6 separate regions of the Homo sapiens genome follow, and all the other regions are reported to be linked to region 1. Evidence: microRNA targets listed by miRTarBase, many of them from high-throughput screens and not tested one by one. Region 1 holds a microRNA gene; each other region holds the end of a gene's coding sequence.

Evidence for each region. Region 1 holds the annotated microRNA hsa-miR-1273h-5p (CUGGGAGGUCAAGGCUGCAGU, at 1,154-1,174, opposite strand). A microRNA usually pairs through its seed, bases 2 to 8, with sites in the 3' UTR of a target mRNA and lowers its output. Matches are read on the target gene's strand: a 7mer-m8 pairs with bases 2 to 8, a 7mer-A1 pairs with bases 2 to 7 and ends in A, and an 8mer does both.
Region 2: miRTarBase lists LYSET as a target of hsa-miR-1273h-5p. Seed matches in the 3' UTR shown: 8mer at 2,378-2,385, 7mer-m8 at 2,240-2,246 and 8mer at 2,076-2,083.
Region 3: miRTarBase lists PPM1L as a target of hsa-miR-1273h-5p. Seed matches in the 3' UTR shown: 7mer-m8 at 1,986-1,992.
Region 4: the mRNA of TSKU is a reported target of hsa-miR-1273h-5p. Seed matches in the 3' UTR shown: 7mer-m8 at 3,212-3,218 and 7mer-m8 at 2,791-2,797.
Region 5: miRTarBase lists TTLL1 as a target of hsa-miR-1273h-5p. The part of its 3' UTR that is shown has no 7-base or 8-base seed match.
Region 6: miRTarBase lists IGF1 as a target of hsa-miR-1273h-5p. The part of its 3' UTR that is shown has no 7-base or 8-base seed match.

Annotation. Positions count from the first base shown.
Region 1 is chr16:24,199,174-24,204,321 of GRCh38, reverse strand. It overlaps MIR1273H (microRNA 1273h), which reads right to left and starts at 1,206; the gene lies at 1,091-1,206. All of the region lies in intron 16 of PRKCB (protein kinase C beta), which reads right to left.
Region 2 is chr14:93,186,094-93,190,291 of GRCh38, reverse strand. It overlaps LYSET (lysosomal enzyme trafficking factor), which reads right to left. Exons shown (of 2, transcript NM_001098621.4): 2 at 1,829-4,032. The coding sequence ends at 3,621. Among named protein-coding and RNA genes, the nearest start is that of LYSET, 2.9 kb to the right of the region's middle.
Region 3 is chr3:161,068,647-161,072,646 of GRCh38, reverse strand. It overlaps PPM1L (protein phosphatase, Mg2+/Mn2+ dependent 1L), which reads right to left. Exons shown (of 4, transcript NM_139245.4): 4 at 1-3,836. The coding sequence ends at 3,490. Among named protein-coding and RNA genes, the nearest start is that of B3GALNT1, 35 kb to the left of the region's middle. RefSeq lists an enhancer at 2,902-2,951.
Region 4 is chr11:76,795,382-76,800,529 of GRCh38, reverse strand. TSKU (tsukushi, small leucine rich proteoglycan) reads right to left here. Exons shown (of 2, transcript NM_015516.4): 2 at 2,386-4,921. The coding sequence starts at 4,913. The coding sequence ends at 3,852. Among named protein-coding and RNA genes, the nearest start is that of TSKU, 15 kb to the right of the region's middle. RefSeq lists a silencer at 1,092-1,351 and an enhancer at 4,334-5,148.
Region 5 is chr22:43,035,377-43,040,524 of GRCh38, reverse strand. It overlaps TTLL1 (TTL family tubulin polyglutamylase complex subunit L1), which reads left to right. Exons shown (of 11, transcript NM_012263.5): 11 at 620-1,009. The coding sequence ends at 749. It overlaps TTLL1-AS1 (TTLL1 antisense RNA 1), which reads right to left and starts at 1,940. Exons shown (of 3, transcript NR_125362.1): 1 at 261-1,940.
Region 6 is chr12:102,397,827-102,402,974 of GRCh38, forward strand. IGF1 (insulin like growth factor 1) reads right to left here. Exons shown (of 4, transcript NM_000618.5): 4 at 1-4,740. The coding sequence ends at 4,681. All of the region lies in intron 6 of LINC02456 (long intergenic non-protein coding RNA 2456), which reads left to right. Among named protein-coding and RNA genes, the nearest start is that of IGF1, 80 kb to the right of the region's middle.

The DNA.
Region 1 (5,148 bases):
CTATGTATCTGATTGTGTGGCACGGACTTAAAAGTTAAGCTAACCTGGGTACCAATCCTGGCTCCAACAATTCCCAGCTATACAACCTTCAAGCAAGTTAGCTAAGTCCCCTAAGCTCAAGTTTCTTGTAGGGTGTGGCGAGAATGACTTGATAAAATTCACATCAAATACTTAACATGGTAGCTGGTGGTTACTGCTGAGGGCTGACTGACCCATTCATGTCCAGTGAGTAAGTCTGACAGGGCTGTGCTCTGGCTTGAAAGAGGTCCTGTACGCTCTGCCAAACCCTAAATTCCTACCCATATTCCCATCCCAATTACAAGCAGAATGAGGACCTGCCAGTGCTACTTTAGACATAGAACAGAAACCTTCCCACTTAGCCTGGTGCATCACGGCAGGAAGCTACAAGACAAAGCCAGGCCCTGGGGCTCCCAGTTAGAGGAAGTGAGAAAAAGACGTGTACCCTGGGAAGAAAAAGGGATGCATTTCCGTTCCCATCCAAGCCTCACTTCCTTAGAAAGACATTTCAGGTAGATTAACACACCATCTCTGTGCTGTTTTCCATATGCCATTTGGGGGGGCATTTTGTGGTTATTTTTAAGAGACTGCACTTGTAACAAAACAAAAAGTAAGCTTTCTGTTTTCCTTTCTGGGTCATGAGCTGGTCTCAACCCTCCAAATTCAACTGTCACTGGAAGTCTTTGTGGAGTTGGAATTTCTATTGGGAGTGGCTGTGAAGGTAGGAAGAACATCAGCAAATGTGGTGATATGGTTTGAATGTGTTCTCCCAAAGTTCTTGTGCTGGACACTTAATCCCCAATGCAACAGTGTTGAGAGGTGGGAACTTTTGGAGGTGACTGGATTGATGTTATTATTGTGGGAGTGAATTTATTTAAAAAGTAAGTTACCCTCCCTCATGTGTTCTCTTGCCATGTGATGCCTTCTATCAGGTTACTATGCAGCAAGAAGGTCCTCCCCAGATACAGCCCCTGATCTTGTACTTCCCACCCTCCAGAACCATGAGCCAAATAAATTTCTTTTCATTGTAAGTTATCCACTTTTTTTTTTTTGAGACAGGGTCTCACTCTGTCACTCGAGCAGGAGGATTGCTTAAGCCTGGGAGGTCGAGTCTGCAGCAAGCTGTGACCACGACACTGCAGCCTTGACCTCCCAGGCTCAAGCAATCCTGCCTTAGTCACCCAAGTAGCTGGGACTACAGGCATGTGCCACCCCACCTGGTTGATTTTTGTAATTTTTGTGTGTGTAAAGACAGATTTTGCCATGTTCCCCAAGCTGGTCTCAAACTCCTGGGCTCAAGCTCAAGTGATCTGCCCATGTTAACCTCCCAAAGTGCTGGAATTACAGGCATGAGCCACTGCACCAGGCCCCAGTTTCAGGTATTCTTATAGCAGCACAAAACAGACTAAGACAGACACACAATGTCATAAAAATGAAGGAGAAGAGGGGCTTAAAAAGAAAGAAGGCACTCTGAACTTTTCCTACAGATAAACTCACTTATATAGGAAACTAGGAAGTTATTCAAAGGGTGATGTAGAGTTAGATAAGCAGATAAGAAACAATCTCCAAGACAGAGGGGAATAATGCAAGATACAGAAATTGTACACAGCATGCTAACATCCTTGTGTGTGATGTAGACTATTTCTGGGCCTGAACACATCTTCTCTAGAAGGTCACACAAGAACCTGGTTGCAATGGGTGTCTCTGGGAAGGAGAACCAGGAAGCCTAGCTAGGAGCCATGGGTGAGGGGAATCTTAATTTCACTTTGTAGCTTCTGATGCTGCTTGAATATTTTATTTTTTCACATTTTTTTAAAGGAGAAAGGATTAGAGCACCTAATAATATGGTGAGGTCAAGAAAGATGAGACAAGCTTATGAGAAGAGGCAGTTTTCAGGTCATTGATGACTCAATGAGAAAAATATCAATAGGATGGCGGGAGCAGAAGCCAGATTGCACCAAACTGAGGAAACAATAAATTGTCATCAAGTGGAAATAGCAGGAACTGGCAACTCTTTCAAAAGTGTGTTTGTATGCAAAGTAAGGTAGGGTAGTAATCATAGCAGTAGTAAGAGTAGTAGTAAGGAGGATTCCCAGGTTTGAGGTAGGGGATTTTTAACATGAAAAAGACATAGCAGGTTTATGCACAAAGGAGAAGGCCAGGATAGAGTCAGAAAGGACAGCTGCTGTTTTTGCCCAGCCAGCAGGCATTGTCTTTTCTTCTAGTGACAGTGGCTTTATTTTTCTTTTTTTCTTTTTTTTTTTTTTTGAGACGGAGTCTCGCTCTTTTGCCCAGGCTGGACTGCAGTGGCGCTATCTCAGCTCACTGCAAGCTCCGCCTCCTGGGTTCACGCCATTCTCCTGCCTCAGCCTCCCGAGTAGCTGGGACTACAGGTGCCCGCCACCGCGCCCAGCTAATTTTTTGTATTTTTTAGTGGAGATGGGGTTTCACCGTGTTAGCCAAGATGGTCTCGATCTCCTGACCTCATGATCCACCCGCCTCAGCCTCCCAAAGTGCTGGGATTATAGGCGTGAGCCACCACACCCGGCCATGACAGTGGCTTTTTTTTCTTAAAGGAGATATTCCTTCTCTTCTTTCAAAATGTCTGATTTAGATAGGACATTCCTTCTCTTTTTTCAAAATGTCTGGATTAGATCCAGCTCTCTGGCTAAGAGGGGCTGGTGACCCAGGCCCGGTCAATCAGCACATTCCATCCCCCTGGTGCAGTGAGCAATTCCCTTAGAGATGGGCATATGACCCAATAATCTTCCAAAAAGATTGAGTCCTAGGCTGCTGGGATTTTATAAAAAGGAAGCCCTTTTCTTTGGTAGAAGTTGCAGAGATAATGGGACATAAATTGGGAGTTGCTATGTGCCCAAGAAAGCCTTCTGAGAATGAAGAATGAAGTCAACACAGTGGGGAAAGTAATCCTAAGGGATATAGATAAATGTTTCCCTGCTGGCATTGTTTGGGACCAGATGTAGATGATCCATCTACATCTGAATACTAACTATCATTATTTTTTGCTTAAAAGTCAGTTTAAATCAGATTCCTATTTGAAACCATAGGAGTTTTGTTGATACAGAGAGAAGCTGTAGACAGACTAAACAGGGGAGATAAGCATGAAGGATCAAGAGGCTGGAGTCCAGAGCAGGAGTGAGGGTAAGTCTCACATGAGTTGGGGGAGGGAAAACATATTTGCTAAGACAGAGATGGAAGCTGGGCAAGGAGGTCAAGATGACTATGGAGGTGCCGGTAGGTGGTAAGAAGCTGACGGCTACCAACCAGTGGCACCCATGGGCCTCAATCTTCCTCACGATTTAGGGCAGGGATCCCCAATCCCTGGGCCATGGACCAGTATCAAAATAACAATAATAATAATAAATAATAATATAATAGTACATGACTCAAAGTCATGTATCTGGTAGGTTCTATGGTTGACTTGCCCCGCCAAAGTTCATGTGTTAGAAACTGAATCTCCAATGCAACAGTGTTGAGAGGTGGCACCTCATGAGAACTTAACAACATTATCTTGGTAGTGGGATCCTAATAAAAGGGATGAGTTTGGCTCCGTATCTTTCCCCTGCATGTGCACACACATGTATGCATATGCATATATATGCACACACATGCACGCATACTCTCTCTTGCCCTTCACCTTCTGCCATGGGATGACACAGCAAGAAGTCTCTCACCAGATGCAAGCCCCTCACCCTTGGACTTCCCAGCCTCCAGAACTGTAAGAAATAAATTTCTTTTCTTTATAAATTATCTAGTCTGTGGTATTCAGTCATAGCAACACAACATGGACTAAGACAGAAACTGATTTAGGAACTTCACCTGGCTCAGGAACCTGACAATTCCAACCATCTAAAGGGAGCCTGGTTTGATCTGAAGTTTAAATGGGTTCTCCATGGGTGTGTAGATAGGTGGAGAGAGATAAACAGACTCCAAGCTGTGTGTCCTAAATGGCTCTTGGCTATTTGTTTGTCAGTATATAAATGTAGGTTGATATTTTTATTAAGATCTCTGCAAACTCCACACAGTGGATACCCCAAAAGAACAACCAGAAATGAGCAGGGAAACCTCTACTCCTTAATGAGCCTGTCTCGGCTGCCTCATTTCAATGCTGCCATGCCCTTCTTTCAGAGGTTAGTCAATGCATGCCGTCTTTGTCAGCCTCAAAATCAAAGCCCTAAGGAACAAATAAGATTTGCATCTTTTAAAATCCTGACAACGAATTATAAAAGCTGTGAAGATGCTACTTATTTGTTGCAATATTTTAAAATAAATTTAAATCATTTGAATTGTAAGAATACTCAGTCTTTTTCTATTATGTAACAGACACCATTCGATGGTGTTATCATGACTCTCCTGGTAGCACAATCACAAACCTTACCAGGGGCTCCAAGTGCTTCTAATAATCTTTACAAGGGTCTTGTGCAGTGTACAGTCCAGGGATCAAGTCCTGGCTCCTCTGCTTTCTAGTTGCTGGACCTTGGGCAAATGCCTTAACTTTTCCAAGCTCTAGTTCCTCATCTATACTGTGGTGATAACCCTACCTTACAGGGTTGAGAGAATTAAATGAGGCAATTCATGGAAGGCAGTTAAAACAGTGCCTGATGCAGACAAAAATGCAATATATTTTCTAATATATTTGAACAGTAAAGGTTTTATGAGAATTATTTTAAATCACAATTTTCAAAAATGAATTGTTCTCTTGAGTATTTGATACTTTGGGGGAGTTAGGTTCTGTGCTTAAATAAATCACATTGAGTAAGTGTTAGATCCTTTTCTTAAGGCTTGAATTTGGAGTTTTAACAGCAAACATACAAAGGTTACACTTTCTGGATTCAATTCAGAAATGTCAGCACATCAAACACACACATTCAGACACACACACACAGAGGCACTTACTCATACAGTGTAAAGGGCAATTGGGTTTGGAAGAGAATGTCACATGAACAGATTCGCAGCTCATTAAAGCAGTACTTGAAGCTTTTGACCTCAGCTACATAAACAATGTTTTCAGATGATAAAATTGCTGAGAAACCAAGTCCTGTGAGTATGATTTAGTTTCTGAAGCAGTTCAGCATTTAGACTCTCAGAGGATACGGGCAATGGGATGTG
Region 2 (4,198 bases), not on the chromosome of region 1:
TTCCCTCTTTACCTTACCTAAAAAATGCTTTGAACTATTAAATAGCCACAAACCAGAAATAATCCACAACTTGGATAAATAGCTCCTAATCAAAAAGCAGATTAAACCTGCAATCTGAAATATAGTAATTACATTTGGAAATACTGAATTTACTACATTAATCCTACTCTAATTATTTTACTATTTCTTCTATCAAGGCAAAAGGCAATATAATCTTGAAAGATAGAGATGGACTGAACATTTGCTTACCAAATCCCAAAATACTAGAATTTGAAGTATAAAAAGAGATGAATCAACTTCATTAAGAAAACTTTGCAATACCAGTGGCAACCTCACAAACCTTGCATTACATAACCTTTTTTTTTTTTTTTTTTTTTTTTTGCAATGGAATCTTGCTCTTGTGGCCCATGCGATCTTGGCTCACTGCCACTCTCCCTCCTGGGTTCAAGCGATTCTCCTCCCTCAGCCTCCTGAGTAGCTGGGATTACAGGCATGCACCACCAGCCGTGGCTAATTTTTCTATTTTTAGTAGAGACAGGGTTTCACCACGTTGGCCAGGCTGGTCTTGAACTCCTGGCTTCAAGTGATCTGCCCACCTCAGACTCCCAAAGTGCTGGGAGTAGCATGAGCCACCCCTTTTTAATAGAAATGGGGTCTCGCCATGTTGCCCAGGCTGGTCATGAACTCCTGGGCTCAGGCTATCCTCCCATCTCTGCCTCCCAAAGTGCTAGGATTACAGATGCCACCACTCCCAGCCTACATAAAGCATTTATAAAACAAAACAAAACTGAAATAATTTTCTTAAATCACTGCCTCAAGACTAATAAAACTGGCAACTCTCAATGATTTCCCTCAAATTACTCTCCTTTTTGAGAAGCAGTATAGAATGATAAAAAGCTGGAGATCTGAAGCCAACATCCTAGGTTCAAATCGGCTCTTTCACATACTGGCTATGTGACTATGGACAAGTTATTCCTACGTGTTTCAGGTTTCTTCTGTAAAATGACACTAGTAGCAGTATAATACCTGCCTCCCAGGACTGTTGTGAAGAATAAATGTAAATCACTCATAAACAATGTCTGTAACATGCATACTGAATACTTAAAAGATGCAAGTGATTTGGTCATCTGACCCTCACAAAAACAAGTATTTCAAACTGCTGCTTACTTTGAGGATTCCACGTGTTATATCAAAAGATATATCATTTCAGTAACTAGACCTTTGGAGGCAGTGAGATAAATGAGACTAATTGATCTGAAGGATCTGATCTGCTACTTTTACATCACAAAGGTACCTGCTTTATCTTTTAAGTAACAGCTTGCTATGGAATACTCAGCCTTCCTTTCGGGTTCAGTCAGATGTAGTGGAAAGATGAGGTTGCTAGGAAACTTTCAGATTTCTAGTAGACAAATAGAGAAAAACTTGTCAATACTATTGCCATTTCCATTCTTTGGCATGACTGGGCAAAGAGTACCCAGTGCTAAAACATTTGTCATTTGTGAGAAGCGCTATGCCTCTGTGGTTAGTAACGATGGCGTTAGAATGCCTGGTTATAACCCTGGCTCTGCTACTCGCTGTGACCTTTGGCAAGTTACTTGACTTCTCTGCCTCAGTTTCCTTATCTGTGAAATCTGGATAATAATACCCATCTTATAGGGTTGTTGGGAGGATTACATTAGTTAATTTCCATAAAGCTCTTAGAATAGGGCCCAACAGAATAAGCATCAAAAAGTGTTGATTATTAAAAGCATAAAATGTTTTCCAGTATTAATGACATAACTGTATAAAAATATATCTTGATCTCATGCAGAAAAGAAATGCTACTGTGTCCATGTTTTAGTTATTTGTATTAGTACCAGATGTGAGGTAGTACAAATGCAAAGGAGAAGGTACAGGAACACATCTTCATGTAATTAACCTACTGCCTGATGACCTGACCTTGGGCCAGAAAAGAAAATCAGAAAGATTATGACTTGATAGCATCTTTTAGAGGGGTCTCATGCATCTGATAAGGACTGGACTAAATTACCTGCTATAGGCTGGCCATGGTGGCTCATGCCTGTTATCCTAGTACTTTGGGAGGCTGAGGTGTATCACTTGAGGTCAGGAGTTCGGGACCAGCCTGGACAACATGGTGAAACCCCGTCTCTACTAAAAATACAAAAATTAGCCAGGCATGGTGGTGGGTGCCTGTAATCCCAGCTACTCGGGAGTCTGAGGCAGGAGAATAGCATGAACCTGGGAGGTGGAGGTTGCAGTGAGCTGAGATCGCACTTCTGCACACCAGTCTGGGCTACAGAGCAAGACTCCATCTCAAAATAAATAACATAAATAAATACAGCTAGGCATGGTGGCTCATGCCTGTAATCCCAGGCCTTTGGGAGGCTGACGCAAGTGGATTACCTTAGTTAGGTGAGGAGTTTGAGACCAGCCTGGCCAACATGCTGCAACCCTGTCTCTACTAAAATAACAAAAATCAGCCAGGCATGGTGGTGGTCACCTGTAATCCCAGCTACTCAGGAGGCTGAGGCAAGAGAATCGCTTAAACCCGAGAGGTGGAGGTTGCAGTGAGCCGAAGGTTCCAGTGAGCCAAGACTGCACCACTGCACTCCATCCTGGGTGACAAAGCAAGGCTCCGTCTCAAAAATAATAATAATAATTTAAATAAATAATAAATAACCTGCTAGATTTTCATTGAACACATTGTTTCCATCTTCTATTTGTAAGTTATTTCTAGCCTTTCAACATTTAACACTTAGTTTCTTCCCAGATAGTTTTCTAAATCAGTAGCATTGGAGCGTACGTTCTCAGGGCCTTCTGAGACTGTGTCACAAGTCATGGAAAAAAAAAATTTTTTTAATTAAAAATAGCTGGGCATGGTAGCTCACACCTGTAATCCTAGCACTTAGGGAGCCAGAGAGAGGAGGAAAGCTTGAGCCCAGGAGTTCGAGACCTGCCTGGGCAACATAGCGAGACCCCATTCTCCACAAAAAAGAAAAATATAAAAAATAAAACCATTAAAAGCATTAATAATAATTTAGCCATTACCAAGAGGAAGAACAAATTCTGCTTATCAAGACAGCCATTTCCTCAATAATTTTTTAGCAATGCCTCATAAGCTGACAGCAAGTCTAGACAGCTGGCTTAGCTGCAATAGAATGAATCGGTGTTTTAAGTGTGAAGAATTTTAAAGCAAGCCAAGTAATTGTATAAAATTTAAATTTTATGATCATGTCTGGACCTTTTTACACTTAACACAATGGAAATGTTCATATTCATTTTTTTCCCCAAAGGAAAAATTTCTGAATCATCACTATGTTGCACAGTAGAATAGAAATATGAATTCAGGTACTTAGTCAAGTTTCTAAAGAATGCAAATAACAGACATGATTTAACTTCCAAAATCTGAAGTCATCAACATGATTTTGTAGTACTCTATCTCAGGTTTTACCTAAAAATTCGTTATTATTCAGATAAAGATAGCTCCCTAATCACATGTTTTTAAAAAGCCTCTGCCCCACGACAACTTCCTGAGATCTGTGAAGAAACTGCAGTCTTGTGATCAGACTCCATATAGGACTGGCAGTTTTGTAATCGTAGGGAAAAAACGGTGACTGATTTTACGTGTCAATCAGTTGTAGTCTGCTGATCTGATTAGAAGCCTTGACAAATGCCTGGTGGCGATTGCAAATAACTGCCAAGCATATAGGGATGATACAGTAGCCCACTGTTTTGGGATCAGCTCTTGTACAAGAGTATAGGAACAAAAACATCTGTAAGTAAGGTACCAGAAAAATAACTGTCCACACCCAAAAAGGCAAGGAGAGTAATTGAGCTTTCAAGGAGTGTGTCCATGTGGTTCCTTCAAGGGGCTCCTCAGGGTGCTGTTGAATGTGTTCCAAGGCCAGCCTGTTGTAAGTCTCACTGATTTCAAAAACATAGTAAAATGCTGCTGCACTGGCTAACAGATACAATCCCACTCCAATCCATCCCATCCGCTGACGGAAGTTCATCATTCTCCATGCTCTGTGCCTTCAAATTAAAAAAGAAAATACAATTAGGGTCTAGTAATGCTGTCACGGCAACTACTCCAAATGTACTTGCTTTATCTCCAAGAATTCTAGGCCGGGCGCGGTGGCTCGCGCCTGTAATCCCAGCACTTTGGGAGGCTGAGGCGGGTGGATCACGAGGTCAGGTG
Region 3 (4,000 bases), not on the chromosome of region 1:
TGTGGTCAAATTAAACACAAAGGAAATTAAACGCAAAGGAAAACAGTGGACTCAATTTCCTAGAATCCAACAGTGGAATCAATTTCCTAGAATCACTTCAGATTCAATTGAAATGATGATGCCATCACTCTCATGCAATCCTGTTTGCCATTTACCCAAAATGATGTAATAATTACACTTGTATGAAATAAGGTCTGTTTTAAATTATCCAGCTTACATCCTTCACTATAACACTCTCTGTATAATATTCTTATGACATATACAAGATTCAAGAAGCCAATACCTCAGTCCACAGCAAGGAATAAAATGCAGCCACTGGTTACCAGTACTATGTACATATGTACACAGATATGTCACATTAGAACAGCAATTCAGAGTTAATTGCCTTGGGGCAAGTTGGTCATATAAAATAAATAATACAGGTCTTGGGAACAGCTTTGGAGCTTTCTATATGTGTTGTTTATTCCTATGATGAAAGAATTTTAGATACAATTAATTAAAAAAAATTTCCCTAGCTGTCCCTCCCCCAACCTATGTTAAGAGTACAAATTGCCAGTGGAGCAGCAGCAGAGCACTGCATTAATGGAGACCTGGGCCTGGCATCGTGCTGGGGTCTCAGAAGCACATGGCCATTCCTGTCTTCATTTCTAAAAGACTGTAAAACCATCCCAAAATTTGGCACCATGGGGACTATTGGCAATTCGAACTCGAGCTAGCTAGGGAGTCTAGGAAGCCTTGGGTGACAATTCCAAAGCTTTGGCAGTGCTGCTTAGGGAAGCTTCACATGCAAACATCTCAAATCAATTTCCCTAATGGCTAGATTCAGCATTCCCAGGTCCCTGGGGAGCAGCCAGTGTACCATAGGGCACCCCCAGGAGTGATGTCTGCACATCCCCAACAGCTGGAAAAGGGCTAGGGAGAGAGAGCTCCAGAAGGAAGGGAACAAAATACTCTGATTTTAGATATAACTATCCTAACAACTATTAATGAAACTGCTACAGTTTTGCCTAGAACTTCTATCTTTTGAAAATCTACAAGCCATAGTAGGGGGGAAAGAGGCAGTAATGGGAGTAGGATATATACACTCTATTTGGTTAACATCAGAAATGAATTAATTGTACAAAGCAAAATTTAGAAGACGCCTTGTGAACCTCAATTAGAGAGAAAGTTATGTAACTCGTGCACTCAGCACCATCTGTTAAGAAATTCTGCAGGGCACGTAACCACTGATTTACTAATTTAGTAGCTTTTCTTTTTCATCTTTATCAAAACACTGTTGCTTTCATTTTAGACAATAAAAATAACCGGAATTTAAAAATGTCTTTTCCTTGCTATTATACATTTTTGTGCTACGTTAAAAATAAAGAAAGTTGGCTATGGGCTGTAAAGTGCTGACACCATTGGTGCTGATTTCAGTTTGATGGTGGGTGGGGGCAACTCTTAGGAGTCAGAATGTCCTGAATTTCCAAGCAAACTCAGCCGCCTGGCCTGGCCATCTCAGCACTGCTCACAGCCAGCATTTGTTTTCCACATTCCCTTCCCTGTCCCCACCCCAAATATTAATACACACATCCACATATTCAGTGTCTCCCCATAGGCAAATGCTTAAATCTAAAATGGTGGCAGATATTTTTTACTAGAAGATTCTATGGCTAAAAAACAATAACCAAGGTTCTGTAATGCTGGAAAATACAGTATACAAAAGTAAGCAAATCTCATGGGAAATCATTAGCAATTCTCAGTGCAGTCAAAGAAAGTTAAGTGCTTGGAGAAATCAAGACAGATTGCAGCCCTCCACATCTACAAGGCAATTTCTTCACTCTCTCAAATTCTCTCCTGGACACTGCTTTGGGAAAACTCTACAGCAGCAGGAGGGGAGAGGGCAGGGTTCCACGGCGAGGAGGTGGCCGGTGAATGTGGCATATGGGAAGCTATAACCACAAATGCTCACAGGGAAAGAACAAAACCAGGTGGATACAGAGGGCTGGGAGGCAACGGAAGTTTCGTTTGGCTGTTTGAGTCACCTTAGGCAAAGAGAGTGACCCAGCATTTTCTCTAAATAATATAAAATACCAAGGTTGGAAAAATGATAAATTAGCGATACAGGAAATGGAGAGCAGCAAGCCAGGCCCCTAAATAATTCTGGCCCACTTATCAATATGGGTTCACGCTTGAATTCCTGACTTACTGTGTTGCAACTGCCAGGTCCCTTTGCTGCCTCCCCTGCAGGCCTGCAGGCCACGGGGCGGTTTGTATTTGCCTGGGGAAAGCTCCCTGATGTGGATGGAGATTTGCAACCAAATGTTGAAGACTGCTGCCTTTCCATTGTCAAGGAGAAGCTTATCCCAGTAGTTTCCCACCAAATCCCAAGCTGCAGTAGCTGGGAACTCTGCACCTGGCTTCAAGGAACACACATACAGTTATAGGCTGCTGCTTCTCAGAACACTGCCTGACACTTGAAAACCACTTGGAAAGGGGCAAGGAAAAACACAAAAACTGGCAGCTGGAGCTCAATTCAGGGTGGTAACCTCACCAGCTCACTCCTTTCTCAATGCAAACAGCTTACTTGCCAGGGAACACTGTGACTCATTCAGTATCATTTCCTTCATCTACTGTTGAAAATGGAAGGAATCATGGTATTGTGGCTTGCTTTTTTCATTTCCCCTAACGTGGTTTCTTGGTCACGTAAGATGAAAAATCAGGGTATCTGTTGGTGAATTTAACAGCTGCCTATTACATATGGTAAGGACTAAGCAAAAGGTTAACGGTCATGCATGATTAGGATAAATGCACAAAGGCTGGTCAGGTGGTATACAAAGTCTATTTAACTATTAAAGGAAGCAAGGGAAGAGGGTTATCTCTGCTGTGCAGGCAGTTGCCACTGGTCTCTCATTCTCTCTGCTTCTCGCAGTCCCCAAGAGCAGCCAAAATAGTAAACCATTCCAAATCTGCTTCCAAGCTGCTACTGAGCAGAAAACATGGGCTCAGAAGGACAAAGCATTCTCAGGACAGCTCTGTCTCTTGGCAGAGGGTGTTGCCACATCAGCCCCTGACCACTCACAGGTGACGCAGTGGCCTGTCTCCTGCAGCACTGGGTGGTCTGTCCTGTCCACTGTTACAAAGAGAGGACACAACAGCTGATGCCTGGAGGACCCTGAACAGGATCTTGAAAAGAATCTTCAGGGAGACTAAATGACACATATGCTATTCACTTCATATATGTGACTCTACAGCTATTTACTTATATATTTTGGACACTGGATGAAAGAGTTGGGAAAACATGAAGAAACCATTTTCCAGTTTCTTAACTACATTGGCCAAGGGCACCCTCTGTTCGTCACTGATTATAGACCTAAGACCACCAGGGAGGGGGGATTCCATGTCTGGGGTGGATGATCCTAATTACAACTCCCACACTTTTCACTAAATTAAAAGAGACCAGTGTGTTGAAAGTCCTTTAGTCTAAGGCAGCTGAGACCCCTGAAGGGTTCACTGCTCTTCTGTTTTGCTGCTATTTCTGAACTTCACCACCATGACTGTTATATTGTCAGGGCAGCCTCTGTAAAATGACTGTAAAACTATGCTCTTGGCCCCAAAGTGAGGTTCATCCAAGCGCTCCTTGATGAATCGAACTGCTTCTTCATTGCTGAAAGCATCCCAGAGACCATCTGATGCCAAGATCATGAACTCAGGCTGAAGCTTGTCCAGGTCAAAGGTCAGGATGTCTGGGTCTGGGATGACCACGTTGAGATTTTTCAGCGGATAATCCCCCAGGGACCGAGACATGGCCAGGATTCCCTGGACCCTCCAGGAGCCATTGAAACTGATGAAACCACCTAGAAAGACAGGATGAGCCCATTAGTTTGACCAGCTGATATCTCACTTACCTGGGATAGTCTAGGTACGTGCGCAACAGGGTGACCTACTTCATGTGAACTGGGCTGTGGGCACTCCCCTTAACCCCATCACTCCTGGGACCCACTGCATGGCCTGGGGTTTT
Region 4 (5,148 bases), not on the chromosome of region 1:
TACCGGGTGTCGTTCTGTGATTCTACAGTCCCAGAACTTTACAAAATTCTTCAGTTCTGAGTGCGAGTTATAAAAAACAGACTCAGACTACATGGCTCTGTAATCTACTTCATAACTCCATGGTTGGATGAGGGCGGGAAAGAGCACTTAGAGGCTGCCATTTTGTGCCAGGCACCGTACTTGGTTCTCTACAAATGTTACTTCATTTCTTCTACACACAGTCCTGTGGAGGGAGATATTTTCCCTCCCTCCCTCCCTCCCTCCCTCCCTTCCTTCTTTCCTTCTTTCCTTCTTCCTTTTTTGCTCTTTCTTTCTTTTCTTCCTTTCTCTCTCCCTCCCTCCCTTCCTTCGTTCTTTTTTTTTTCCAGGGTCTAGCTCTGTCACTCAGGCTGGAGTGCAGTGGTAGAATCTCGGCTCACGGCAGCCTCAACCTCCCAGGCTCAGGGAGGTATTTTCTCTTTCTTTGTTTGTTTCTCTTTCTTTTTTGTCTTTCTTTTATTTTTATTTTTCTCTCTTTGCTTTTTTTTTTTTTTTTTTTAAACAGGGTCTAACTCTGTCATCCAACCTCCCAGGCTCAAGCTATCCTCCCACTTCAGCCTCCCAAGTAGCTGGGACTACAGGCGTCACCATGCCCGGTTAATTTTTAGATTTTTAAATTATGTTGCCCAGGCTGGTCTTAGTCTTGAATTCCTGAGCTCAAGCGATCCTCCTGCCTCAGCCTCCCAAAGTGCTGGGATTACAGGCAGGAGCCATCGTGCCCGGCCTTGAGGGAGATATTTTCATCCCTATTTTCCAGGCTCAGAGAAGTAAAGTGACCTGGCCAAAAATCACACAATTGGTTAGTGATGACCCCAAGATTTCAACCCTTTTCTGTGAATTCCAAAACGGATTCTTTGCACGAATTTTCCTGATTGTGTAAGATTCGAAGCCCTCGCCCTGGGCGCCAGGGTTCCTGGAGGGCGGAGTCCGGCAGGGCGAGGGTAGTCTGGTGGGCGGGAAGGGACTGGCCGCATAAAGCAAACAGCGCAGCCCACTTTGGCCTCCAGCCGCCCCGGTCCTGGCTCTTGGCCCCGCTGGGATCTGGGGTGTCTGGCCATGCGTGAGCACGAGGTGGCGCTGCGGGCCGGGAGCCTCCGCACGGGCAGGGAGGGGCCGCGCGGACTCCCGGGTCGGCGAGGCCCGCCGGGGCTTCCGCTCTCCTTATGGCTGGCAGGAGGCCAGGGCTGCGGGGTGCAGGGCAGGTTCCCCACGGGAAGGACGAGCCCGCCCAGCGTGATGGCATCCGCGCCCATGCTCTCACTGGGCCTTCACCCTGCCCCGTTTTGCAGAGGAGGAAGCTGCAGCTCGGGCGGAGGTGACCTGCTCCAGAACTGATTGCCGCAGAAGCCCCCTCCTTCCCTTCGCTGCCCTCCGCACGCTTTGGCCCTGTCTTTAAGGCCTTTTTGTTCCATGGCCCTCCCGCAAGGACTCCTTCCACAAGCGGGGACTTGGGAAGACCCGGACCCATTGGGTGAAAGTACCGTGATCCCTACCTCCATCTGAATCCTCTCCTGTCCCAGGAAATGTAGGGGAAGTGGAGAACAAACAGGAGGACTGTGGGGGCCCGGGGTCTCACCCTGACCTCCCTCTCCTCCACACCGCCCGGCGCCAAGCCTCAGCTCTTTCCTACCTTGACCGCTGGGTGCCAGCCTCGGACCCAGGGCCTCAAGCTGATACTTCTCCCTGGGGAGGCCTGATTACAAGATGGGCAAGCTCCCACCAGTGCATATGGCCTGAATGTTCTGGGCACAGAGTAGGGATCAGGAAAAACCTGTCATTGGTGATGATGGTAGACATTCCCTGTAGACTGGCCAGTTAGAAGGAAGAACTTGGTGACAGCAGAGCCACCCAGATGAGCTCCAAGTGTGATCTCTGTCAGTGGAAGTGTGCAAACAGGAGCTGGGGTACCATAGCAGCTGAAGCACCAAGGAAGAACAAAATACTGTTGCAGTTCAGAGGAGGGAGGTGGAAGGGGCCAAGGAAGCTTCTGCGGGCGGGCAAGAACTAGGTCTACTGGATAGGAAGGAGGTTGAGAGACAGGGGTGAGGGCAAGGGCAAGGTCCCACAGTAACGCCTGAGCAAGAGAACAGGTGTGCAAGGGCCTGCATGCTCATGGCTATGGCTGGAGCTGGGGTGGCAGGAACAGTGGGGTAGGGCCACGGGAGATGAGAGGTGAACAGGGTGCAGGAACTCCCTCCTTCACGTCACCTTACTCCCCAAATCCTGAGATTATCAGGCTTTTCAGGGAGAACAAGCTGCCCAGGGCAGGGCCTAACCTGATTCATCTTTGTGGCCCCAGAGCCCAGCCCAGGGATTGCCAGTGGACACTGGCTGAGTAAAGCAAAGAACTTTTTATAGTGTTTATTAAATCAAGGACCGGTTAGATAGATGATGGGCTAGGCAGGTGGGGGAAGACAGAGCTCACTGCCCTGTGGGGTCTCTGTGGGGCCAGCCCCTGATGCCCATGTGGCCACTGATGCCCAGCTTCCCCCAACACCCCAACACAGGCCCAGGACAATATTACAAAAGTGAACAAATGCAACCTTTTTCTGCTTTTACAAATGACATGTCTCCATCCCCGGCCAGCAGGGGTAGGGGAGGCCGGTTGAAAGTGACACTCCGTTAAAAAGGCAACAACTTTTATAAAATGAAGACTAAGGAAACAGCCCAGGGTTCGGAAGCTGAGATGCTACCCTGGGGGTAGAGCATAGACATGGGTCGGGCAGACCTTGTCTCCTTTCACGGCATTCCTGGGAGGGTAAGAAGGGCTGTCGTGCTCAGGGCCAGTGGGGACTGAATCCAGGAGGCCCCTTGGAGATCCCAGCCAGATGAGGCTCCAGAACTGCAGCAACTCCTTGGGGCAGCATCTAGAGGATGCTCAGGGGAAAATGGGTAGGTTTCCAGTCTGGATGCTGGGGGACCCCAACCCAGGGTGAGAAACTGGCTAGGCTGGAACCAATGTGCCCTAAGCTTCCAGAGGCTCCGAAGGGCAGAGTGACTTAGCCCATGCCGCACAGCTGGTCAGAGGCCCAGAGTCCCACTTGTGAGGCTCTTGCCTGTCCTGCTGCTGCTACTCCTGTGCTAATGGGGAACAGGCAAGGGCAGCAAGGGGAGCCCAGGCGGGGAGGGTGGGGCTTATTAGAGGAGACAAGAAAGTGCATTGGGTCCGGGCTGGGAGGCAGGAGGCTGTGCTCCAGTCATGCCACTGCCCGCAGGAACTTAGATTAGCCTTTTTCCTTCTCAAGGCCTCAGTTTCCCCATCTGTCACATGAGAAGGGTGGACTTGATTCTTTGCAATTCCTTCTACCATTAAGGTTCTAGGGAAATAGAAAAGGATGAAGCGGGCCTCATGGCCTCATGGCAAAGAAAGGGCTATGTTAGAAAAGAAACTCGCCCCTGAGTGACTGGGCCATGGGCCCAAGGGGACACTCAGCCCAGTGGACCTGAACTCTGCCCTGCAGCAGGGGGTCCCACCCACCCTCTGCCCATTGCGGGTCAGGCCGGCCCAGGCATGAGGGAAGGCACTTGGGGGATAAGTGGGGAAGGGAAGCAGGAGGGGACCCGAGTCTGGTTTGGCATCGAAGTCCCTCTGCTCATGGTTTGGGGAAGCAACGTAGACAAAGGGGTGAGACTTTGCTCCTAGGTGTGGCTCCCAGGTCCAAAGCCTCTCCTAGGCCCACAACTCCTGTGGTGACGCTGCCACATAGGCCTGCGGGCTCCCCACTGGTGTTGGCACATTGAACATAAGTTACTCGGGACCTGAGGCAGCCCAGGACAGCAGTCTGTTATGTGGCCCTGGGCCACACCATTTGTCACAAGATGGTGGGGCCCCTGGCAGCAGAATCCCGGGTGTCTACGCAGTGCAGGGCCACCTTGGGGCTGGAGCCAGGCCTCCGGGGGTAGGTGCCCTCCCGCACCAGGCGCCGGCACCGCACATCCTGGCCCACGCTGACGCTCTGCAGTGCCGGGAGGTGGAGGAGCAGCGCCTCAGGCAGGGGCACCAGGTTGGTGCCCGAAAGGTCCAGCTCCTGCAGGGAGCTCAGGCCTGAAAACACCTCAGCTCCTGCCCAGTTAAGCTTGGGGTTGCCCGACAGGTCCAGGACCTGCAGGCCCGGTAGCTCACGGAAGCCACTGGGCGCCAGCTCAGGGAGCCTCTGCAGGCTGGCCAGAGACAGGTGTGTAAGGCCTCCCAGCCCCGCGAAGGCACCCGGACCAATGACAGCTAGAGGGTTCCCATCCAGGCTCAGGTAGCGCAGGGGCAAGTCTCGGAGGTTGGGCACGGCATGGAGCCGGTTCCAGGCCAGGTTCAGGCTCTGAATGGTGGGCGCAGGCAGGCCGGCCCTCGTGGGGTGGGGCACGAGGCGGTGAATGAGGTTGTGGGAGAGGTCCACGTGTAGTGCCCGGCCCTGACTGTGCGTCGTGAAGGCAGACACTGAGACCTCCCGGAGCTGGTTGTGGCTAAGGTTCACGTCGCTCAGGGGTGAGCTGGTGAAGCTCTCGGCTGGCAGGGCTGTCAGGCCATTGTGGCTGAGGTCAAGCGACTCCAGGTAGCGAAGGCGGGAGAAGGCAGTGGGTGAGATGCTGGTGAGCAGGTTGTGGCTGAGATCCAGGCCAGCCAACGTCGTGTAGCCCGGCCCCGCCAACACCGACTCATTCACCATCTCCAGCCGGTTGGAGGACAGGTCCAAGTGGGCTGTGTCCAGAGGGATGGGCACCGGCATGATGTGGGGGCCCAGGCCGCTACAATCCACCCGAGTCAGGCTGAAGCTGTCGAAAAGGCCGAAGGTCTCCACCTCGCATTGGCACCCGGGGAAGCATGGCCGGGTTGTCTGGGCCCCACTCACGGCCAGCAGCAGCAGCAGGGGCCACGGCATGGTGGGGGCTAGAAAGAGAGCCACAGGTGAGGAATGAATGCACCAGATGGTCTAAAGCCACCACACAGGACATGAGCCCAGTCTAGACACTGTTGGAAGGTGTCACAGACCCCGACCTCCTGGAATGCTTCCTGGAACACTCCCCAGAGTTCCTAGTCCCAGTTCTTCTCTGGCCTCTGCCTCTCCATTTGTATGGTAAGGGGCGTGAGGCCAGGTGGTGAATTTTCAACTAGAA
Region 5 (5,148 bases), not on the chromosome of region 1:
GTAGTGAGCCAAGATTGCGCCACTGTATACCAGCCTTGGTGATAGAGTGAAACTCCATCTCAAAAAAAAAGAAAATGGGGAGGGGTGGCGTGGGTCACACTGGCAGAGTCTCTAGCTGAGTGTGCACCGTGGGGCCTCTCTGCCCTGGCCTCCACTGACCAGTGCTCATGTACCACTCCCATCTGGAATGGAGTTAGTCCCCCCAGCCTGCAGGTGCCTTGTGTGAAGCGTTTCCAGCCAGGCAGTCTCACCTCACTTACCCTGGGCTGGTTCTGTGTCACCTCATGCATGTTGCCTTTGGAGTCATTGCCATATTTGACCTGGTGACCTGTATAAAATGTCAGCTTCCGAGGGGAGACCACTGTCCACAATAACAACAAGGTTGTACACATAGGCAGGCTGGCCTTGGGGAGCATTTGCTGGGCTGCGAGAGCCACCTGGCAGGCAGGTGGGCTGGAGCCAGGTGGGAGGTGGGCGGGAGCCAGCAGGAGTCGCGAGGGTGGGGCCCCCTCAGGCCGCTTCTCTGGGTGATGTCATATTTGCCACACAGCAGCCTGGTGGCCCTGCCTGTTGCCTTTGAAAGAGAGCCTGCCGTGATCCTGGCTGTTTCTGTCTCCAGGTATGATGAAGAATTGGCCCAGGGTGACGGGGCTGACCGGGAGCTGAGAAGCCGTCAGGGTCAGTCTCTGGGGCCCAGAGCAGGCCGATCGAGAGACTCGGGGAGAGCGGTCCTCACCACCTGGAAGTGAGTCCCACCTGGACCTTATCAAAACTACTCACTCCACCTGGGCCCCTGCTGAAGCCCTATTTTGAAATTTCCCTTTTGTAGAGCTTTTTTCCTTTCCTAAGCCCTGTAAATAAACGAAGGCACTTCTTTGGAAGGTTATGGAGTCTGTTTGACTAGTGCTAAAGGAAACAATTCATGCGGATGTATAAAACTCGCTCTTTTTTTTTTAATTTTTAACCTAAGCAGAATTTTCATATTAAAAACTCACTTTTTTGACAGAAAGTAACAGCTTCAAGCATGTAATTTGATGTGTCACAAGGTTTAAACATTAAAAAAACTTTACACTAAATTAAAAACAAAACAAATCTTATAGACTCGTCCTGCCACGAGAGAGGAATGTATTTAACTGACGGCTCTTTTAGTTGCGTTTCTTTTTACTTGACTGCGATTTTTTTTTTTTTTCCCGAGACAGAGTTTTGCTCTGTCGCCCAGGCTGGAGTGCACTGGCACAATCTTGGCTCACTGCAACCTCTGCCTCCTGGGTAGTATTTCTCCCACCTCAGGCTCCCAAGTAGCTGGGATTACAGGCGTGTGCCACCACACCTGGCTAATTTTTGTATTTTTAGTAGAGATGGGGTTTTGACCATGTTGGGCAGGCTGGTCTCAAACTCCTGACCTCAGGTGATCTGCCCACCTCGGCCTCCCAAAATGCTGGGATTACAGAGGTGAGCCACCACGCCCAGCTTACTTGACTGTGATTTTGAAGAAAACAGGCAACTAGAAATATTCCTCGGTAATTTATCTTTACAAAGGCCTTTGTCTAGGTGCTCCCAGGAAGACCTGTTTTCTTTTCTTTTCTTCTCTTTTCTTTTTTTTTTTCTTTTCAGACAGGATCTCGCCCTGTCACCCAGGCTGGAGTGCCGTGGTGCCATTGTGGCTCAACTTCCTGGGCTCAAGTGATCCGCTCACCTCAGCCTCCCGAGTAACTGGGACCACACAGGCACACACCACCACCCCCAGCTACTTTTTAAAGTTTTTTTTGTAGAGACAGAGTTTCACCATGTTGGCCAGGCTGTTCTCGAACTCCTGGGCTCAAGCGATACTCCTGCCTAAGCTTCCCAAAGTGTTGGGATTACAGGCATGAGCCACCACGCCTGGCTTCAAAAAGACCTGTTTCTACCACTTCGGTTTTGTGGATGAGTCTGTTGTAAATGGAACTAGATGAGCACAGACAGGTCCGGCTGTGTGCCTTTTATGACGTCAGCAGCTGGGTTTGCTACAGGGAAGCGCCGTGGGCAGCCAGGAGCTGTGGGAGGAGCGATGGCTGCGGGACAGGCTGCGCGAGCGTGGTTGTTCCCATGCAGTCTCCCGGTAGCCCGGTGACTTACAGGAGTGTATGGAGAGGACCTGAGTTGGTGGGTAGATGGACAGATGCATTTGAGTAATAACTCATGAGTTACAGTGCTGTTCTTAGGAAGGGTCTTTTTTTTTTTTTTTTTTTTTGAGGTGGAGTTTCACTCTTGACACCCAGGCTGGAGTGCAATGGCACAATCTAGGCTCACTGCAACCTCCACCTCCTGGGTTCAGGCGATTCTCATGGCTCAGCCTCCCAAAGAGGTGGGCTTACAGGCGCCTGCCACCACGCCCAACTAATTTTTGTATTTTTAGTGGAGACGGGGTTTCACCATGTTGGCCAGGCTGGTCTCGAACTCCTGACCTCAGGTGATCCTCCCGCCTCCGCCTCCCAAAGTGCTGAAATTACAGGCGTGAGCCACTGCGCCCGGCCAGGAAGGGCCTTTTACTCATGGTCGTATTAACACGTATTTGCTGAAGTTTCACTCGCTGTCTTGAGTTTATCTTTAAAGCTTGCCACCTGTTTTTGTTGCAATGCTAGTAACAGGAGTTTGTTCTCCCAAATGGCACCAAGGGTATGTCCTTCAGATAAGGGTCTTAACTGACTTGCCCAGGCTCTCTCAGTGCCCATGCATGGACGTGTGTCAAGTGTACATGCCATATTGTGTGTGTGTATATGAGTACATATATTTAATGATGTTTCACTGCCAATTAGGGAAAAATAGGTCTTTTCAACACAAATGGTACTTGGCTGGACTCCAAATAAACTACAATTGGTGGGCTTTTCAGCCATTCCTTCTTCGTGATCTTATTGGTATGTGTGTTGTGTGTGTTCCCTGGTGTTTAAGTTTTGTTTTGTTTTGTTTTGTTTTTGAGACAGAGTCTCGCTCTGTCGCCCAGCAGGCTGGAGTGCAGTGGCGCAACCTCAGCTCACTGCAATCTCTGCCTCCCGGGTTGAAGTGATTCTCGTGCCTCAGCTTCCCAAGTAGCTGGGATTACAGGTGTACACCACCATGCCCGGCTAATTTTTGTATTTTTAGTAGAGATGGGGCTTCACCATGTTGGCTAGGCTGGTCTCAAACTCCCAGCCTTAGGTGATCCGCCTGCCTCAGCCTTCCAGAGTGCTGGGAATACAGGTGTGAGCCACTGCGCCCAGCCGTGGGGTTTAGTTTTAATGTGTTTGCTGTTGATGGCGGGTGTGGGATGGAGATCCCCGAGTCAGACTTGGCCTTGTGGCCTGGCTCTGCTGTTTATTAGCTGTTTCCCAAGCCTGTCCCTGGGGTCGTTGCACCTTTGTTTCCCACTGTATAAAATGGGGAGTTCTGTGGCCGGGCGCAGTGGCTCATGCCTGTAATCCCAGCACTTTGGGAGGCCGAGGAGGGTGGATCATCTGAGGTCAGGAGTTCGAGACCAGCTTGGCCAACATGGTGAAACCTCATCTCTACTAAAAATACAAAAATTAGCCTGGAGGCTGAGGCAGGAGAATCGCTTGAACCCAGGAGGCGGAGGTTGCGGAGAGCCGAGATGGCGCCATTACACTCAAGCCTGGGCAATAAGAGCGAAACTCCGTCTCAAAAAAAAAAAGGGGGGGAGTTCTGTTTGCCTCAGAAACAACCAGTACCACCGCACAGGGACCCTGCCCGCACGCCTTGCTGGCTCTGGCGAGCCCTCTTACCTCCCAGGAGGGGGTGTCCTCTGCACAGCTGGCGGCTCCACCTCGGCTCCTACACGCAGAAGTGAAAGACACCCCGTTAACTGTTCCCAGCTCTTCCACCGGTTTTTACAACCCGGTTCTCAGTTACATTGTGTTGTTTTTGCCTCCCTCTGGGAGAAGGGTGGAGTCCCTGGTTGGGAACGTTGGCCTCTGAGGCTCCGGGGCCACGCAGTCCTAATGGAAGAGTCACACCAAGTGGTTAGTTTGCTGGTGACCCAGTTGCTAGGTGAGAGTGAGGCTCTGCTAAGTGGATTTATGTCATATAGTGACTGTCTCATTAATGATTTAGTGATGTCATGTTCTGGGCAGATGTTTCCTCTGAGCACTTCCAGGACACGGGTGGGAAGGGTGCGGTGTTGGCAGCAGGCCTCGGGAGGCTGTCGGGCCAGGAACAGCCCCATTCAGCGCTAGGCTGGGGCTAAGCAGTGAGCCCTGCTGGGAGCTGTCCGGGAGCCGTTGCTGTTTTCTTGTCAGCCCCCACACACTTGATGGGGTGGGTCCCAGGCCAGAGGGTTGCATCCTGTGGTCGTTTTCACCAAGTTTGATAGGCTTGGTTTTCCCAATATAAACCCATCCTCGACTGGGCACAGTAGCTCACGCCTGTAGTCCCAGCACTTTGGGAGGCTGAGGTGGGTGGATCACCTGAGGTCAGGAGTTTGAGACCAGCCTGGCCAACAAGGTGAAACCCCGTCTCTACTAAAAATACAAACATTAGCTGGGCTTGGTGGTTCATGCCTGTAATCCCACCTACTTGGGAGGCTGAGGCGGAAGAATCACTTGAACCCAGGAGGCGGAGGTTGCAGTGAGCCGAGATCGCACCATTGCACTCCAGCCTGGACAACTGAGCAAGACTCCATCTCAAACAAAAGAAAACCACCATCCTTCACCTCCTTTGCACACGGGCTGCTCCCCGGGTATTAGTGAGGGCCTGGTGACAACCTTCTCACTGTCTCCCTTCTCCTCCTCCGCCTCCCACCTGGGCTGCCATGGAGACCCCATCAGTCTGGACCCGCATCTGGTTGCGCTCCACCAGCTGCTAGGACTTTCCTCACAGGGGGCCATTTCCCCTCCACACAGTGGTTCTTCAGGGTGCTCCATAAAGCCTCCTATGCTTGCCACCCATTGGCCTGTTGGCTCACACTGCCACACACCATGTCCACCAGTGCCAAACACACGCAGCTCCTCTCTGAGTGCCCCCAGGGGCCAGCGCACTCTCCACCCTCCCCTCTGGAGCCATTCCCAGCTGTGCTGCGGCCGCCTGGCCCTCTCCCCGCAGCAGCCCTGCAGCCCCTGTGGTCTGGGGAGGCCAAGGTCTCCTGCAGGGCCCTGCCTGCTGGTAACGGCACAGCGACTG
Region 6 (5,148 bases), not on the chromosome of region 1:
ATGGAAAGATTCTTTCTTCTGAGGAGAGCCAAACAGGTTCTGCTCTAATAAATTAGCACAATCTTTTAAGATTAAAAATAGCAAAACATTTTAAATAGTCTGATTATAGCTTCAACAAGTCAAACATACATTTCTATCTAGCCTATAGTTTTAAAGAGTCTATGTGGGTTTAACTTATTATTCCTCATTCTGATATAAAAAAAGAAGAAAAGAACCAAGTCATTTTGAACATTAAGAAATTCATAAAGACTGTATAAAGTAAAAAAAAAAAAAAAACAAAAACAAGAAACAAAAAATCTTCACAGATTGTTAGCCATCTCTTTCAACAATTTCTCATAAATTCTTTCTTTATCAGTAGATAACCCCCATCTCATAAGGAAATACTTTCCAACATTTCCCAAATGAGATCAGTGATTGCTTTTCATGAGAGCTACTGCTCTTTGAGATGTCTGGGTGAAGGGAGAATGTCTTCTATAAACCAGTAAATGCCAAAGAATACCCAAGGGGGATTTGGCAGAAGCTATTTTTTGCAGGTAAATCTATGTATTTTTTCTCTTTGTTCTTATTTTCTCCACTTGCTGAATATCTGTTTTAGAGCAGAGTGCACAAAAATCAATAAGGAACTTACTTATCTTTTAAATTCTTCTATTTGCCTATAAGATCTTTTTTCCCGCGTTTATTCTCCATGCTCTTGATCAAGTTCAGAAGATTGGATAATATATTGCTAATTTTGCTAAGTTTGAGAGCCAACAAAACAATGGAGCCTTCTAACTTTAAAAAATTTCCAACTCCTGCCCCTGCACCCCCAAATTCACAATTTGGTGAACAGTACACTACTTGTGAGTGATAAAAAGTTGAAAGGTGGTGGTGGCTAGATAGACCTAATGCTATTTTATTAAGCCATCTATCTATAGAATTGTTGTTTTTATACTTTAAAAAAATATGTCTATGCTTTCTTTTTTTTCTTTTTTTCTTTTTTTTTTAGTCAAGTACTTTCTTAAAGAAACAATAGCACCACATTGGCATAGCTGGCCAAACAATAAATGGGAAAGCAAAATGTGCTACATCTTTTATTCTAAGCCTTCTCCCAAGTGCATAAAATAGTAACAGAAACCCTGGAGCCACAGAGCATGAGATGGTTTCATCTACACAAACATTGACGTTCCAAGGAGAGGAAGGATTCTCAAGGGTGGACAGGCTTTTTGTTTGTTTGTTTGTTTTTTAATAAAATTTTCAAGGAAGTGATTTCTTTTCAGTATTCCATTGGATCCTTAGGGTGAATGTGTGTGTGTGTGTGTGTGTGTGTGTGTGTGTGTGTGTCTGTGTATGTAGGGTGGGTGTTAAGAGATTTTCATATCCCTAGAAGAGTGGATTCTGATGGAGAGCTGCATTAACTTTTTCAGGGGAACTGCCTCATCTTAAAAAGTTCAAATAATACTTTAATATTATTTGGGGAAGAGAGAACAGAAATTTGACCTAAGTATCCAGTATGGTCAATTAAATTGGAAATAAGCCTATGAGTTGAAAGCTCATTCTTACCAATGTTTACTGTTCTTTTACAAATATCTTGAAATTGCCTCATTCAAGAATTATAAAGCAATCTAATTCTGAAGCAAAGCTTGTAAAGTTTTGGGTTGTGACATTTTGGTTGCTCCTTTCTATGAAATCTGAGTCATTCTGCTGTAGTATATAGTAATCAACTGACTTCCAGGGTTTGCATCAATTTGTTTTCTAGTTTTAATTCATTAAAAAATAAAATAGTGAATTGGTATAATGAGTTATTTTCAATTTATTTATAATCCAGTTGGAGAGGATTATGTGTTGGAAAAAGTTAAGAAAGATAATATGGCAGTGCATCTTTCAGCTTTCCTCCTTGGGGGATTTTTGACTGTGGATAGAATTAAGTGAAGGAAATAAGTCATAGACACTCTTAGAATTATCACATCTAACTATGACAGAAAACACGTTAAGTCTGCAGAAGACTGCCTATAAAGTTTTGTTGAGAGGGAATAATTTTAAAAGGTACACACTGGGGACAAGAAATAAAAAGAAGTGCCATCTTGGGAAGAGGAGTCCAGTATCTTATTCCACAGAACCTGTATGTCTGGAAAACAGGCAGAGGGCAAAAATGATGTATAGTTTCTTTTACATCTGTCCATAGTGATTAGAACATTGCTAAGCATGCTTGAGGTGCTCAATTCAAATAATGTTGGACTGAGAGTTAAAATACTTGTTGACTGAACAGGATTGCTGGCTCCACTAAATGGGGCCTTCTTTTTGCATATATTCAGAGATCCAGGGAGTCTTTTTTTTTTTTTTCCTGGCCTCTGATCCTTGAGGTGACCCAGTGGGAGAAAAACTGAAGATGTTATTTTTGTTTTTCATATAGACTTTCCAAGAATGTAAAATATAGAATTTGCATGAAATAATCAAGCCTGGGTACTTTTAACCAAAAAGTTCTAAGGTGACTAGAAAGATCTGAATGCTGGATAATTCATTGTTCTAATGAGAAAATCTTGATCTGCAGATAGGGATCATTTTCTAGGCTATGATGGACTAGTACACTAACCAGTGGACTTTCTTGATACCAATTTTCAGTTGAATGGATAAAACACATTCACAGAGAGCTAGGGGCTACCCTTCTGAGCAGGCATGGGAAATTTCTTGTTGTGATGGAAGTTTTTGCCTTTCAACTGGAAACTCTAGTCAAGCATATTTTAACAAACTTTTAAAAAAATGTATATACAGCTAAGAATAAGAGTAAAGTTTGTTAAAGAAGATAACTTTGTGACTTTTTATTAGATATTATTTTAATATTTCAAATTTTGGATCACTTTCCTTATATTGCCTAGAAAAGAAGGAATCATTGTGTTTTTCAAAATGAATAGAATATTATTTATAGTATTAAACGAGGTTTTACTAGATATGTAGTAACTGCATAGAAGAGTCAGTGAGTGCTAACAAAGAGTAATTAATTCCCCTTTCACTGGTAGAAATCTCTTTGTTTTTCTCCTTTTTCTTTTCCTTTCTCTCTTTTCACTTATCTTTGTATTCATAAAACCAAATGCAGAATTCAAAATCAAATTGAAAATCAAATGCTTCCCACATATTTTGAAAAGTGTTTTAAGAGATTGAGCTGTTAGCTTTTAACAACTAGTTGGCCAGTTATTTGGATAGCTTCACTGACAAGAACTGAGATGTCAGGAGCATTCAATTCACCAATCTCTAGCTATGCTATGAATGGGTTATTTATAGAATTCCTTGCATCTCAGCAACTCAAGCGCCCTGATGTTGCACCCTTACAGCAACCCAGGGTAAAAAAAATCTGAATCTTTATCTTTTTAAACCTTATACCACCCCTTTGAGGTAGGTAGATGACATATTGCCCCCATTTTGCAGATGAGGAAACTGAGGCACAGAGAGGTGAAGTGACTTGCCCAAGGTCACACAGTGGTGAGTCCATGACACAGCTGGCAGATGTTCATTTCTTCCATGAGAAAAAGAAACCAGGACTGCTAAAATTCCTAGCCTTCTGCTTTTTCCATTCCACAGTTTCCTCTCTGGACTCGCCAGTCCAATTTGCATCAGTGGACTTTTGTGTCTGAAGTTCCTCTTGGAAGGCATAACTGGGGGGACTTTGCCTTCTTTCCCAAATGGATGGTGTTTTCAGTACCCTTCCCCTTGTGTCATCTTTGGCTCCAGGCTTCCCCTATTGTTTTGCTTTCACGTATTACCGTTTTGGCCAGACTCTTTCATATAACAAACTACAAAATAGCACCATTATACTAAAAAACAGAGTTTTACATACTGTTTGATATATCCTGTATAATTGATATGCTAAATTTACATAGTGCTCTATATGGAAAAAATAAAAAGAGGAAAGTTACTAATTAGGTTGCACATTAACTCATCATTTGAAGGAACTCTTTTGAGTTGAAGAAACTTTCTATGTTTAAAACATATGCCTAAAAATGATTGGCCTCAAAGTTGCAACTATTTGCATTATTCTTTTTTGTAAGCATGATGTGGAAAAATAAAGCTTTGTGTCTAAAATAAAATGCATCCAACTTATATTTGGTACAAATGCCACAGATGGAATCTTGTGGGTTAGAATTGGTGTGCTTCTTGACGACTTGCTGCTGCTTTTGAGGAGGCCAAATTCGGCAAATATAAAGGTTATGAAGGGAGGTGGTGGGTATAGACTAACAAGATTATCAGACACTGTAAAACAAACAGCCCGAGTTGTGTAGAAAGAAGTGCAAATAAGGAAACAATTCATAAACCACTTAGACAAGGTTGCTGAATGAATGGCTCCAGCAGCCAAGATTCAGAGAGGAATTTAGTGCAACTGGATCTATACAACACCCATGCATTTGTGGCTCTTGAGAGGCAGGGACTAAGATATATATATATATATATTTTTTTTTTCTTTTCTATAGAACATTATTGATAAAAGATCAACAGCAATCTACCAACTCCAGGACCATTTTTGCAAGGTGCAAATCACTCCTAAAGACAATGTTGGAATGTTTACTTGTGTATTTCATTGGGGGAAACGCCCATCTTTTAAATGTTATCAAACTTATTTTTTGGTAGGTGTTCCAAAGTTTAACAGGTAACTCGTGCAGAGCAAAGGATCCTGCGGTGGCATGTCACTCTTCACTCCTCAGGAGGGTCTTCCTACATCCTGTAGTTCTTGTTTCCTGCACTCCCTCTACTTGCGTTCTTCAAATGTACTTCCTATAAATAAAGGAGAAAAAGTGACATTAACTTGATGAAGTTTTATGTATCCATCTATTTCTAACATTGGGCCTCAACCTTCCATGTCTTACGCCTTACCAGTTGAGCTAATAGAGAGCTTGAACCTTGGTTTTCCTGAGAAGGGCATGTATAGGTGGACAGGCCCTTAGTACTTTTGCCAAACCTCACTCAGGCATCTTCTATGTACCCCTGGTGGCGTGAATACCACAGACAGCTTTATAATCACACAAAGATGAGATTTGATTCATCTGCTTCTATCACAGATTCATTGATTGAAAGGAGATCCTGAAAAATCCAGCCTTCTGGCCTCTAGATCCTTTCCTAGTAAGAAAAAAAATCAATCACATTCTGGATTCATCCTCTGTTGTTTTATTGCAGTTTGTTCTG